Linked DNA regions of Homo sapiens. The protein of the gene in region 1 binds, or shares a complex with, the protein of each later gene. Each region holds a gene or a part of one and is shown in the gene's direction. Other genes may lie near its edges.

Region 1 (7,250 bases):
TCAGGAAACATTGGTTCTTATAGGCAGTAGGCATAATTTTGTATAGACTTTAGCAAGCCATCTGTTGTGATTTTGTCAGAATTATTGTATGTAATATGGAGAACTGTGGGTTAGACACAGCGAAGACTAACTAGATGAGCAACTTCTTTCTGAAAATAAACTCTGTCCTCTGCCTTGCTGAGATTTTTTTTCTATTGGAGGTATTGCTCTGGGTTAGAGATTTACAGACTTTTCTTTAGCAATGTGAAAAAACTTGTCTTACAGGGAACCTCAAAAAATAAAGTATGTTTTATGGAATAATCTAATTTGGCTAAGGTGTGATTAGTTGGAGCAGGGGTAGGACAGGGAATCCCAGCCATTTGGTCTCTTTCTCCCCTACCTGGACAGTTTGTGGTCCTCTGAGAAGCTCAGTTTGGAAAGTTCTGCAGTTCATGACACACACGGGAGTTTCCAACCTGAGGACTTCTGATAACTAATAATTTTATAAACCAATGATATTTATAATTTCTGACTTTCTTATCTAAGAATATATTAATGAGTATTGTATACTTGTGTTTTTTTCCCTTTGTTTTTAACAGGAAAAACCTTTGCCCGTGATATGTTCTACATCTGCAGCTTCTCTAAAATCGCTGACCAGAGACCGTGGCATGTTATATAAAGATGTCGCTTCTGGGCCATGTAAAATAGTGATGTCTACAGGTAAATTCATATTTTAAAAATAGTATAGAATTACTAATCTTTTATCCTGTATTATTTTCAGTGTCTTCGAAGTCCTGGAAATAAAATAATAAGGGAAAAAGATGGTAATATTAAACATTTATCTTTGCATTTTTCATATTAAAGTATTTTGAAATTCTGATTGTTCCATTTTACATTAAGGAAAAAGTCTTTAAATACATGAGTCACTTGAAAATTCAGATACTCTTAAAGTATTTTATCCATTTAAGTAAGATTTATGCAATTTACATTGTCCAATCTATTCTTGTTTTCCCTTTATCTCATTTCAAAATTTGTCTTTTTGTATGGTATGTATTTTCAAAGCTGCCTCAAACCTTTTCTTAATGCCTTTTAAAAATTATCTCCCTTACACTCTCCTATTCCCTGGACTTTTTTTTCCTTTTAATTTTTCTTTCCTGACTAAAAGTAAATTTAGTTTTTTAAAAATAGAAGTCACTTTAAAAATGATTGTTGTAACATATCTCATTTTTTTCAGTTTATTATTTCTGATTTTTAATTAGCAGGAAAGACTAGCTAAATGGATATAACACAAAGGAGATAAAACATTGAAATCCTTGTTTAGCTTCGCTTGTGTTCAGTAGAATTTGTCCATGTCATCAGCACCGTGGGTTGAATTTTTAATAGCTATTTCATTTCTGAAGGATAACAGTCCTTCCTCTGGCTGTTGCCACAAAATTGAATTGTATATTTCAACAGAGCAAAACTGAGATTGATCAGTTTTCTTATACTAAATATAGACTATGTGTGTGTGAAAGTTTTGCAATATTAATTAATGGATTAAAAATAACATGCTTCTTAGGGGGACAATTTATTTTATTTTTGGTAGTGATGTGCCCTCATGTTTTGTTTCTTTGTTGTTTTTTTTTTTTTTGAGACAGTCTCACTTCATCACCCAGGCTGGAGTGCAGTGGCGTGATCTTGGCTAAATGCAACCTCTGCCTCCCGGGTTCAAGTGATTCTTCTGCCTCGCCTCCCAAGTATCTGGGACTACAGGCATGTGCCACCACACCCAGATAATTTTTGTATTTTTAGTAGAGATGGGGTTTCACTATGTTGGCCAGGCTGGTCTCAAACTCTTGACCTGAGTTGATCCGCCCACCTTGGCCTCCCAAAGTGCTGGGATTACAGGCGTGACCAACTGCGCCCAGCTTCCCTCATGTTTTTATAGTGTATATTGATTTGCATTTGTTGATTCTCAGTAAAGAAAATTATTGGAAGTTGGCATTTATGTGATTATAGATGAATTGCTTCTATATCATATGCTTTTATTATACTAAGGAAAGAGTTTATTTTAAAATTTTCTTCCATGAATCTTGGTATATATAGAAGGAACATTTTTATTTTCCTAAAATTAATAAAATATTAATATATATCAATATAACTTGTTATATATATCTTAAATTGTTTGGTTACTTTAGAAAATATAATTGAGGTGCAGTATTGGTGATTTAAAATAAATTCAGTCCAAAAAAGAGCATAGCAAGATGACCCGTTTTGAAAGGAAATTCTTGTACTGTGTATACAATTAAAAGATGAAAATATTCATCTGTCTTTGTGCCATTTTATATAATGTGGGAATGTATGAAGAATTGTTTTTGTGATGTGCCTAAAATGTCTGTAGATTTTATATCATCAGTTTGGACAAGATTCTAAAAAATTGAATAAACATTTTGATTGTTTCTTTGTGGGTTCAGTGTCTTTGCATCAATGTAAAAATATATTTACATATTTTTAGGTAGCAGAAATGATCATTGATATTAACTATATTTAGGTTTTCTGTGAGTGAAGTGGATAGTGGGATATAGTAATTGATTATGTAGTGTTTTCACAAAATTTCTTTTAATCAGTCTCATTGTTATGTATGCATACGCATTTTTTCTCAAGTCTGTGTCTATGTAAACAAACATGGAAACTTTGGCCCTCATCTGGATCCCAAGAGAATCCAGCAGCTGCCTGACCACTTCGGCCCGGGCCCGGTGAATGTGGTGCTTCGCCGGATTGTGCAGGCCTGTGTGGATTGTGCCCTTGAAACTAAAACTGTTTTTGGATACCTGAAGCCAGATAATCGTGGAGGAGAAGTGATAACTGGTATACTTATCTAATACATTGTCTAATTCAGTCCCTTCCCCCTTCCCTTCCCCCTTCCCTTCCCCCTTCCCTTCCCCCTTCCCTTTCCTCTCCCCTTCCCCTTTCCCCTCCCCTTCCCCCTCCCCCGCCCTTTCTTCTTTCTTCCTTCATCTTTTTAGAACAGGGTCTCACTCTGTCACCCAGGCTGGAGTGCAGTGGTGTGATCTTGGCTCACTGCAGCCTCCACCTCCCAGGTTCAAGCGATTCTCCCACCTTAGCCTCCTGAGTAGCTGGGATTATAGGCATGCGCCATCATGCCTGGCTAACTTTTGTATTTTTAGTAGAGACAGGGTTTTGCCATGTTGCCCAGGCTAGTCGTGAACTCCTGGCCTCATGTGATCTGCCCACCTTGGCCTCGCAGAATGCTGGGATTACAGGTGTGAGCCACCGCACCTAGCCTGTAATATTTATTATATTAGTATAATAGAACATTTATAGGAGTTATATGTTTATAGACTTTAAGCCCTGGTTTGAAAAGTTTACTTTTAAAATGGACAAATGATGTCAGAATAATGTAAATTGGGACAAAAGTCACAGATTCTTCGTTTTACATGCTGTGTTAAGCTCACTATAGGCAGAGTACCTTGGCTGATAATATATTTTATCTATAAGAAGCTCTAAATAAATATGTGACTCAAGAAGTCACTAAGCAATAAGATAGTGTTGGTGGCTATGATCAGACACCACAACATTCATACCCATGGAATATTTGGAATAGAAGGAAGTGTTACATAGATCAGTGAGTTTCTGTTGTTGTTGTTGACTTAAGAGTATTTTCAAATGAGGATGTTTTTACCAATACAGGCTATTGTGTTTGAGAGGAGCTTTTATAATATAAGATCATTCCTTTATGAATTACAAAGAACACAAATTAGACTTATAATACCTTTCCTAAGGTGATAGTTTTTTTTTTAATTAGTGTTGTATTTCTCATCTCTCTGAGGTTACTGACATCCTTTTTTTTCCCCCAATAGCCTCCTTTGATGGGGAAACTCATTCCATCCAGCTCCCTCCAGTGAACAGTGCATCATTTGCTCTTCGCTTTCTTGAGAACTTCTGCCACAGTCTGCAGTGTGATAACCTTTTGAGTAGCCAGCCTTTTAGTTCTTCCAGGGGTCATACTCACAGCTCTGCAGAGCATGATAAAAATCAGTCAGGTGAGAGAAAATGTAAACTCTTACACTTCTGTTTCACTTGAGAATCTTGTGTAATTGTTTTTCCTTGTGTTCTCCTCAAAGTAAACATTTTAGCCACAGTGAACTAATTAGAAATGTATAACATATAGTTGTTTTTGTTCATTCAAAATAGGAAAGTAATTTCTTGTATTCATAATGAACTTCAGAATCAAAGCCCATGGCTTACTTATGTTTGGCTTCATTTTGACTACCTCACAGAGTTAAACATTCTCTATTAGACTGAAGTATGGCTTTAAAGTTACTGACTTTTATAATCCTCAGAAGTTAGCAAAGCGTGTTGAGCCTATTGGCTATAAAGATAATTTTGTTGTCATTGAGGTTTGACAAATGATGATACGGTTTTGTTGTTGTTTTTGGAGACAGAGTCTCACTCTGTCACCCCAGGCTGAAGTGTAGTGGCACAATCTCGGCTCACTGCAACCTCCGCCTCCCAGATTCAATCGATCTTCCTGTCTCAGCCTCCCGAGTAGCTGGGATTACAGGCGCCCACCACCATGCCCAGCTAATTTTTGTATTTTTAGTAGAGACAGGGTTTTGCCATGTTGGCCAGGGTGGTCTTGAACTCCTGACCTTAAGTGATCCTCCCGCCTTGGCCTCCCAAAGTGCTGGGATTTACAGGTGTGAGCCTCCACACCCAGCCTGTGATATGCTTGAATTTGACATTTGAACCATGGTTGCTTCTCTTCCATAAGAACCCCAAACCGATGCCTGAATAAAAGGGTAGGTGTAAGATAGCCCTGTAGAACCAAAAGTGGGTTTCTTGCTTCTGATCCCTAAAGCAAGAAAGCTCTTTCAGCTTTTATGCAAGTGCTGTTTGTTTTTTGGGAGTGGTTTGTCTCTTTTTCATGTGACTCATGAAAGCTAACTGTGTTCTATTGATCATGGCAGGATTGTATGTGGGTCTTTTAAGAGTAGCTGAAGTTCTCAGGTGTTATTGCCGCATGGTTTTCTGGCCAGCTGCTGCTGATTCTGGAAATACAGAGTACCATCACAGACTATCTTTTTAAGTCCAGGGATTCTAATTCACGTGCCACTCAAGTGTGAAGCGTGGGTACCACGTCTCTAGCTACTACTTTTTTTTCTGGTCCTCCTGGTTACCCTCACCCTTCTTCATAAAGCTTGTCTCCTCTACTTCAGTGACATCTCTCATATCCATCCCCTTTTTTCCATTTCCTTGTTACTACCCTGCTTCAGACTGTACTAACCCCTTCTCTGGTTTAGTAAAGCAGGCTTCTAACTGGAGTCCTCTTTCCAGTTTCTCCCCTCTGGTGTAGCTGTCCAGTGAGTCCCTTTGAAATAAAGGTATGATACTGTGACATGCTTGCAAAAAGTATACATGGAGAAGCAGTGGCATGGAGAGCACAGGTGTTGGAGTTTGTCAGACCTGGGTTCCAATCCTGGCCTTGTAATCTCTGCTGAAAGAGTATAAAGTCTGACCGGCCTACATTTTAATTCAGTTCCTGCTGTTAACTAGCTATGTGCCCATAGACAAAGTACTGAGCCTCTCTAGTTCTCAGTTTCCTTATCTGCAAAGTGGATACCTCTTTGGTTGTGAAATTGAAAGAAAGTATATGTAAATTCTTAGCCTGCATTATGCCTGGCATGAAGTAGGAGCAATAAAAGGTAGCTGTTAGAACTAGGGGGAAGAGGAAGAGTGAGGTTTCATGTTTTCATGTGATATTATCCTTTTTTTTTCCTTCTTCAGGAGAGGTAGGAGGTCATCCAAAATGGTAGGAAATTTGGAAGATGGCTAGGAAGGGAAGGGCCACCTGTGTGGGAAGAGGGGTGTCTGTGTATTGATAGGTTTTCTGTTTCTAAGAGTAATTTGGGGAAAAATACGAGTTGGAGATGTTGAGAGTACAATTTCCTGATTTCTTTTTTTTTGGACACAGAGTCTCAGTCTGTCACCCAGGTTGGAGTGTAGTGACACCATCTCGGCTCGCTGCAACCTCCGCCTCCTGGGTTCAAGTGATTCTCTTGTGTCAGCCTCCCGAATAGCTGGGATTGCAGGTACCTGCCACCACGCCTGGCTAATTTTTGTATTTTTAGTAGAGGTGGAGTTTCACCTTGTTGACCAGGCTGGTCTCAAACTCCTGGCCTCAAGTGATCCTTCCACCTTGGCCTCCCAAAGTGCTGGGATTACAGGCCTGAGCCACCATGCCAGGCCCAATTTCCTGATTTCTTACACAAAGCATTAAGAATGCCAGTAATTTACAAAGCCTCATTCTTTGAAAGATTTTAAAGAAAATGTAATTCTTCTTTAAATTGAACACAAAATGTTTGAATTTTCAGATTAATCAAATAATCAGAATAGGTAACTATTTGAAAAAATACACTGAATAATCCACATATTTTACATTATTTTAGGGGTTATTAATTTTCTGTCACAGAAAGCTTAATTTAGCCATTTGAAAATGGCTTTGAGTTGGAACTCTTATGTTTTTCTTAAGTCAGCTTGTAGTTAAAGAAGTTGCATATAAATGCTATGAGGTTATTACTAAGATTTCACGTCTAGTATCCCATTTCTCTTACATTTTTTAAAATAAGTGACTCAAAAATAGTTTAAGATAGAGTGCTCTTCTTAGGAGACTTTGATTCTGACAAATCTAGTGTTTGCATATTTTAGCAGTAATTTTGAAGACATTTTACTGAAGTATAGTATACATAGAGAAAATTATACATGGAATGTAGCTTGATTAATTTTCATGCCTGTATAATCAGTCACTGGTTGGAAAAGTAGCTATTACTAGTACCCTAGAAGCACTGCTAATGTGTCAAACCCCCTTTAATCCACTACTACCCCTCACTTCGCACAAGGATACCTACTGTCCTGACTTCTAGTACCATATATTACTTTTGCCTATTTTTGAACTTTATAGAAATGGAATTATACAGCATTTACTCTTGTGCCTAGCTTTTTTGGCCTATCATTATGTTTGTAAGTTTCATCTGTATTGTTGCATATAGTTAGATCATTCATTCTCATTGCTGTATAATATTCTGTTGTATAAATATGCTACCATGGTATGTATCCATTTGAGTGCTTTCTGTTTTGTGCCCTTATAAATAGTGTTATGTTTTGTACTCTTATAAATAGTGTTATCATGAACATTCTATACACGTCTTTCTGTTCCTGTATCTATCTTGGAGGGAATTGCTAGGTCACAGGAAATGCATAGATTAAGCTTT
Region 2 (5,499 bases), on another chromosome or scaffold:
TCTCAGCATCTGAGCTTGGTCACCTCTCACTCAACGTCAGCGATTAAGTAAAATAGTACCCAGTAAGACTACGCGCCACACTAGAGCTGCATTCAGCTTTCGGGCTTGCAGGTAGCGGCGTGCTGCGACCTCCCATTTCCTGCGACTTAGCAAGCCCTGCACACGCACGAACCGCCCTTGACGCGTGACGCTCACCCCTGAAGGCCAGCAGGAAGTCACCTAAGCCCTGATTTACATGGAAGCCATCCGATACGTGCTTATGGGCCAACGACTCGGCCGCTTAGAAGACCATGACCAGTTCTAACACTAGGGCTTTGTACAAGCACTCTTCTAAACAAAATCCGGTGTCTGGATTTTGGGAGGTCACTACTGCGTTGCGCGGCACCTCCAGGGTCGTACCTAAGCACAGGCGGAACCCCCTCCTTGAGGTCTAGTTCTCCCCGTGCCCGCCAAGTCTAATCCCGAGCAGATGCTCGGGCCGCGAATATCCCATTTCCGGTATCCGGAAGGCGACATCAAAGGGTTGATATTTACCCGTTATCTAGGAAGTGTTAACAGCTCTTTCTGTGACAGTTTGGGGGCCCTGAAAAGGGCCTTTTGGAGTCTGTAGAGAAGCTGTGGGGACAGCTCAACCGCCGAAACCATAAAGGGTGCGACCCTGGCGTTTCAGCGCGTACACCACATCCATGGCCGTGACGGTCTTGCGCTTGGCGTGCTCCGTGTAAGTCACCGCGTCACGGATCACGTTCTCCAGGAAGACTTTGAGGACTCCCCGGGTCTCCTCGTAGATGAGACCAGAAATGCGCTTGACGCCCCCACGTCGGGCGAGACGGCGAATCGCCGGCTTTGTAATGCCTTGGATATTGTCCCGCAGCACCTTCCGGTGGCGCTTGGCGCCTCCCTTACCCAGCCCCTTGCCACCTTTACCTCGCCCAGACATTCTGAAATCACAGCGCCTACTCAGCAGAAAATCGGGCTGCCCACTGTGATTGCCAGTCGCAGACCAGGGCTTATAGTCTCTCGATGCGGACCTGTTTGAAAACATCAAAAAAGTGGGCGGAGCTCTAGGCCCCACCTCTGGAGACATGCTATAGTTGTTAAGTCCAGGAAGCAGTCAGCGAAACCAGCCTGATTTTTTTGTTGTTTGCTCTTTTGGGAAAATTTTTTCTGATGTTTGGAGAAAGGTTCATGGTGATACGTTTTAAAGTTAAAACAGTATGAGCTAAAAGAATTTATATTGCCTTTTCTCAGCGCTTAAATAAAAGTAGGCCAGATCCTATGCACGTTCCTTGTTCTGTCCCTCCCTCCTTCTGTTTTTTCAAACGGAATTCCTGACTTACTATGAAACTCTATAAAAACCTGAAAAGCTTTACATCCGAGATTTCAAAGCAATTACTTAAAATTTAAAATTTTTCACACGTGGGTCTTCTGAAGACATAGTAGGGGGAGAGGACTTTTTTCTCTTTTACGGCCCTGCAGATAATTAAAATTCTTTCAATTGAAAAAAGAAAGTGCAGCTTCCCGTCCCCCACCTACACTCCACCCCCACCTCCCCCCGACCCCCGCCATTCCCCTTTCAGCTGCTTCTGCGCAATTTGCAGGTTTTCCTGCCCTGCAAGAGCCTGTGTGCTTTTCAACCAAGTAACTTCCTGTGGTTATTTAGTTGAAATATTGTCAATGTCTTATGTCATTCAAATCTCAGGTTCTCATCTCACATTTTCCACTTAAAAATTCAAAGTTCTTGTAAAACAATGGATGCCACAATCATGACTTGGAATAATGATTTCTACTGCAAATCCCCTCAGGAGGTTCTGAATCCCTTCCTTTCTCAAGAGAATCCCTGAACAAAAACGAAAGTTTCTGTAAGGTGTCACCGCTCTTCAAAGGTGTCAGGACCCTGTCTTCTCTAAAGGTTTTACTGTGTTAAAAAGCAGCTGTTATTTAGAGGATGAGTCATAAGTCTTTCCCAGGTAGTTAATTAGGATTCTGAGCAATGAATTTTAGTAAGTGGGGCTTCTTTGTCCCTGGTCTTGAAGATAAGCCTTTACAGCAGGAAGACTTTATGGTAAAATTTTGTTATATTTATAAATGCCTATAGTTTACATTTGTTTCAATCCATGCCCATCTTCATAACCCAAAAGGTATTTATTTTTCTTTTACTTTTTGTTAAAGATAAAAGAGTTGGAACACTGTCTTGAATGGCTGGAAAAAGTCCTGAATGGTCGAACTTCACTCATGATTTTAATATTTGACTCAGAGGGAAGAGGAAAAGTCTATCAGATCTTGAAGAGATAAGAATTATTGTAATGGGGCCGGGCGCGGTGGCTCACGCCTGTAATCCCAGCGCTCTGGGAGGCCGAGGAGGGCGGATTACGAGGTCAGGAGATCGAGACCATCCTGACTAACATGGTGAAACCCCATCTCTACTAAAAATACATAAAAATTAGCCGGGCGTGGTGGCGGGCGCCTGTAGTCCCAGCTACTCGGGAGGCTGAGGCAGGAGAATGGCGTGAACCCGGGAGACGGAGCTTGCAGTGAGCCGAGATCGCGCCACTGCACTCCAGCCTGGGCGACAGAGCGAGACTCCGTCTCAAAAAAAAAAAAAAAAAATTATTGTAATGGTAAAATCGGTTGACTTACTTATAGTTAAGCTTTCTAAGAAATCAAGACTAGAACATTTTCAAATTAGAAATCTCTTGCTTATTGGAATAAAAGAAAAAAAATCGTGTCTAAAATAGTAATACTTTTAAAAACTCTTGAAAATTCCCCAAGATACAGGCAAAAATTTAAGCTAGTTTACAGAACTCATTCCAGGAACATCTCGTTAAAAACTGCATCAGAGATTTGTATGCCCATTTATTTGGTATATCTAAGAGTTATTGGATGCTTACTAACGTATTTAATTTTCAAAACACTTTGATACAGGTAGAGGAGTCAAATAACTTATCAAAGGTCACTGCTCAGTGGTAAAGCCAGGATTTAGGCTGAGGCAGACTGGCTCCGGAAAGACCGCCTAAACCATGACAATAGCTCTGAAGACATTTATTGAGTCCCCAGTATGGGTTCATCATTGTTCTAGGCAGTAATGACATATACATAAATATTTGAAAATGTTATTTCAATGAAGTCAAATCTTTATTCGGATAGTGAGAAGGTAAATTTGCTTTACTTTAAATGTAAATGAATCCACATAAAATGTTTATTTTAAAAAGCAAGCGTTCAACATTACATCACGTATCGGTGTTAACTGTGTTACTGAAAATGTTCAGGTAAAAATGAAATGACCTCGATGAATTAGGAGAAAGTAATTTTTAATTAAAACAAAACACTTGAAACACTCTTTTTGTTTCAAAAAGCATGGGTCCACAATTCAGGTATATAAGAATAAGCTGCCATTCTGACTTTAGTCTCTGGACTCATTTACAAAGAGACCCGGGGGACCTCCACGTCTTCGCAGAGGACCCGATCCGCTGATCTGTGGCGCCCTGGCTTGCGGGGAGCAAGCCAAGGCCAAGACTTTGGCCTCTCCAATAAAACCTAGTGGCTCTTTGCAGGCCCATAGCCTCAAAGACAAAAGATATTTTGGCTAGGCGAGCTTGTTCCTCCCGTCAGCACAGGAAGCATTCACGTCTGGTCATCACTCTAGCTTCAGACTCAAAAGTGAACGATTGGCTGGCTGTGAGCCGCAGGACCCTGCGGGGAGACCAGGGTGGTCTCTACACTGTTGGGTAGCTAGCTGGAGGCAAGGCGCTTGTATAAGAAACAGTCCACGGACCCTGTCCTGGGCAGGCAGAATTCCGCGGACAGGCTGTTGTTTCGCCTAAGCAGCACGGGCTGCGGAGACAGAAACCTACCTGAGTAGTACGGTGTATTATATGAGAACATCCACTTAGCATAGCAACGTCTACGGACAACCCCTGTAGCTCTTCTTCTGGATTGTTTTCTGTTTCCAACCATGTTTTCTTATTTCCTACGAGTTTATGTGCTTGGAAGCGAGCGTGGTCGTGGAAAACCCGTAACCGCTAAATTCATCTGGGTCCCCAAAGACTGAGCCGGCTGGCCTCGTTATTTATGTGAGCGGCTATGTAAATGAGGATTCGGAGATTGCTCTATTGATTGGAGAGAGCTGGAGGAGGCGGTCTCTCTTCCAGAGCGCTAGTTGGGAGCGGAGCCTGCCTGTCATTGGTCACCAGAGCCAATGGAAAGGGGCTGCCGCGCGGCCGTAAAGAGTTTGTAGAGGCAGTTCGGGTGCGGTACGTTGCATTCCGGTACCGGACGCCGAGAGCGGTTTGTCTCCGTCTCTGGAGTTGTAGGCGAGAGGTGATCATGTCCGGTCGCGGGAAACAGGGCGGCAAAGTGCGAGCAAAGGCCAAATCCCGCTCCTCCCGCGCGGGCCTGCAGTTCCCGGTGGGCCGAGTGCACAGACTGCTGCGCAAAGGGAACTACGCGGAGCGAGTGGGCGCCGGGGCGCCGGTGTACCTGGCGGCGGTGTTGGAGTACCTTACGGCGGAGATCCTGGAGCTGGCTGGCAACGCCGCGCGTGACAACAAGAAGACCAGGATAATTCCCCGCCACCTGCAGCTCGCCATCCGCAACGACGAGGAGTTAAACAAGCTGCTGGGCAAAGTGACCATCGCTCAGGGCGGCGTCCTGCCCAACATCCAGGCCGTGCTGCTGCCCAAGAAGACGGAGAGTCAGAAGACGAAGAGCAAATGACCCTGACGCCGCCCTCAGGGAGCTGGCTCCCCCAGCAAAGGCCCTTTTCATGGTCGTCCCGCAATGCTTTTGAATGTGCTGGATGTCATGGAGGGCCGGTGACATCTAGCGGGGAGGTGGGCGGCGAGGGTCCCGGCGGGAGCCAATAAAGTTGGTGAAAATCGTTTGGTCGAGAGAGCTGTGTAGTCGCGGGGACATGTCGGATGGCCCCAGGGGAGGGGGGCGACCGGGAAACCCCTGGAGCAGGCACTGGTGGGTGGGCTTGAGCCACTCTGGACGGCTTTAGTCCGCAGGTCACCCTCGAGGCGTCAGGGGAGGGTGGCCTGGAGGTGGGCAGGGTGGAAGCCACCTCGCTGTCAGTAGGGCAAAGGGGAGGCAGAGTCGGTGCGGTGAGGCCTCCTTCGGAATTATTTTTACTTCCCTTTCACAGAGCCTTCGCTCTCCTGCCAGTTTGTGAGCACTCAGGACCAAGTTCTGGGAAGATACCGTCGGATCGAGCTGAGCTCGGGGCAGGAAGTGTCTGCGGCCATATTTTTCAAAAAGTGGAGTAACTTTCCGTCTTGGAAGGGTGGCTCTGATGGCACGATGTCAACTTGAGATTCTTCCTAGCCTAGTAGCTGCTGTGCTTTCATGCTTTGGATATCAGATATCTTTATATAGCACTTTTATGTTCATATTTTTTTTTTAATGAAGGAAACGTTCAATAAGTGAGTCATGAGGTTGGAAATTCGTTCCCCTGACAGTCATATTGCATAACATTGCAGCGCCTTTAGTCGTGGGTTA

The links.
Region 2: the proteins of SCML2 (region 1) and H2AJ are in contact, whole or in part, in a crystal structure (PDB 4EDU), measured with the Homo sapiens proteins. Residues at the interface, in NP_006080.1 of Homo sapiens: Asp182, Asn185, Tyr187, Leu188, Cys190, Phe206, Trp209, Phe213, Pro239, Pro240, Gly241; in NP_808760.1 of Homo sapiens: Leu35 (codon at 4,429), Arg36 (codon at 4,432), Lys37 (codon at 4,435), Gly38 (codon at 4,438).

Annotation. Positions count from the first base shown.
Region 1 is NC_000023.11:18,253,620-18,260,869, reverse strand, and holds part of SCML2 (sex comb on midleg-like protein 2), read left to right. Parts: intron 1-578; coding exon 579-699; intron 700-2,622; coding exon 2,623-2,826; intron 2,827-3,839; coding exon 3,840-4,022; intron 4,023-7,250. UniProt on the Homo sapiens protein: Putative Polycomb group (PcG) protein. PcG proteins act by forming multiprotein complexes, which are required to maintain the transcriptionally repressive state of homeotic genes throughout development.
Region 2 is NC_000012.12:14,770,145-14,775,643, forward strand, and holds H2AJ (histone H2A.J), read left to right. Parts: upstream 1-4,260; 5' UTR 4,261-4,326; coding exon 4,327-4,716; 3' UTR 4,717-4,880; downstream 4,881-5,499. Other genes in the region: uncharacterized protein LOC105369669, read right to left, coding at 1-9; H4C16 (histone H4), read right to left, coding at 629-940. UniProt on the Homo sapiens protein: Core component of nucleosome. Nucleosomes wrap and compact DNA into chromatin, limiting DNA accessibility to the cellular machineries which require DNA as a template.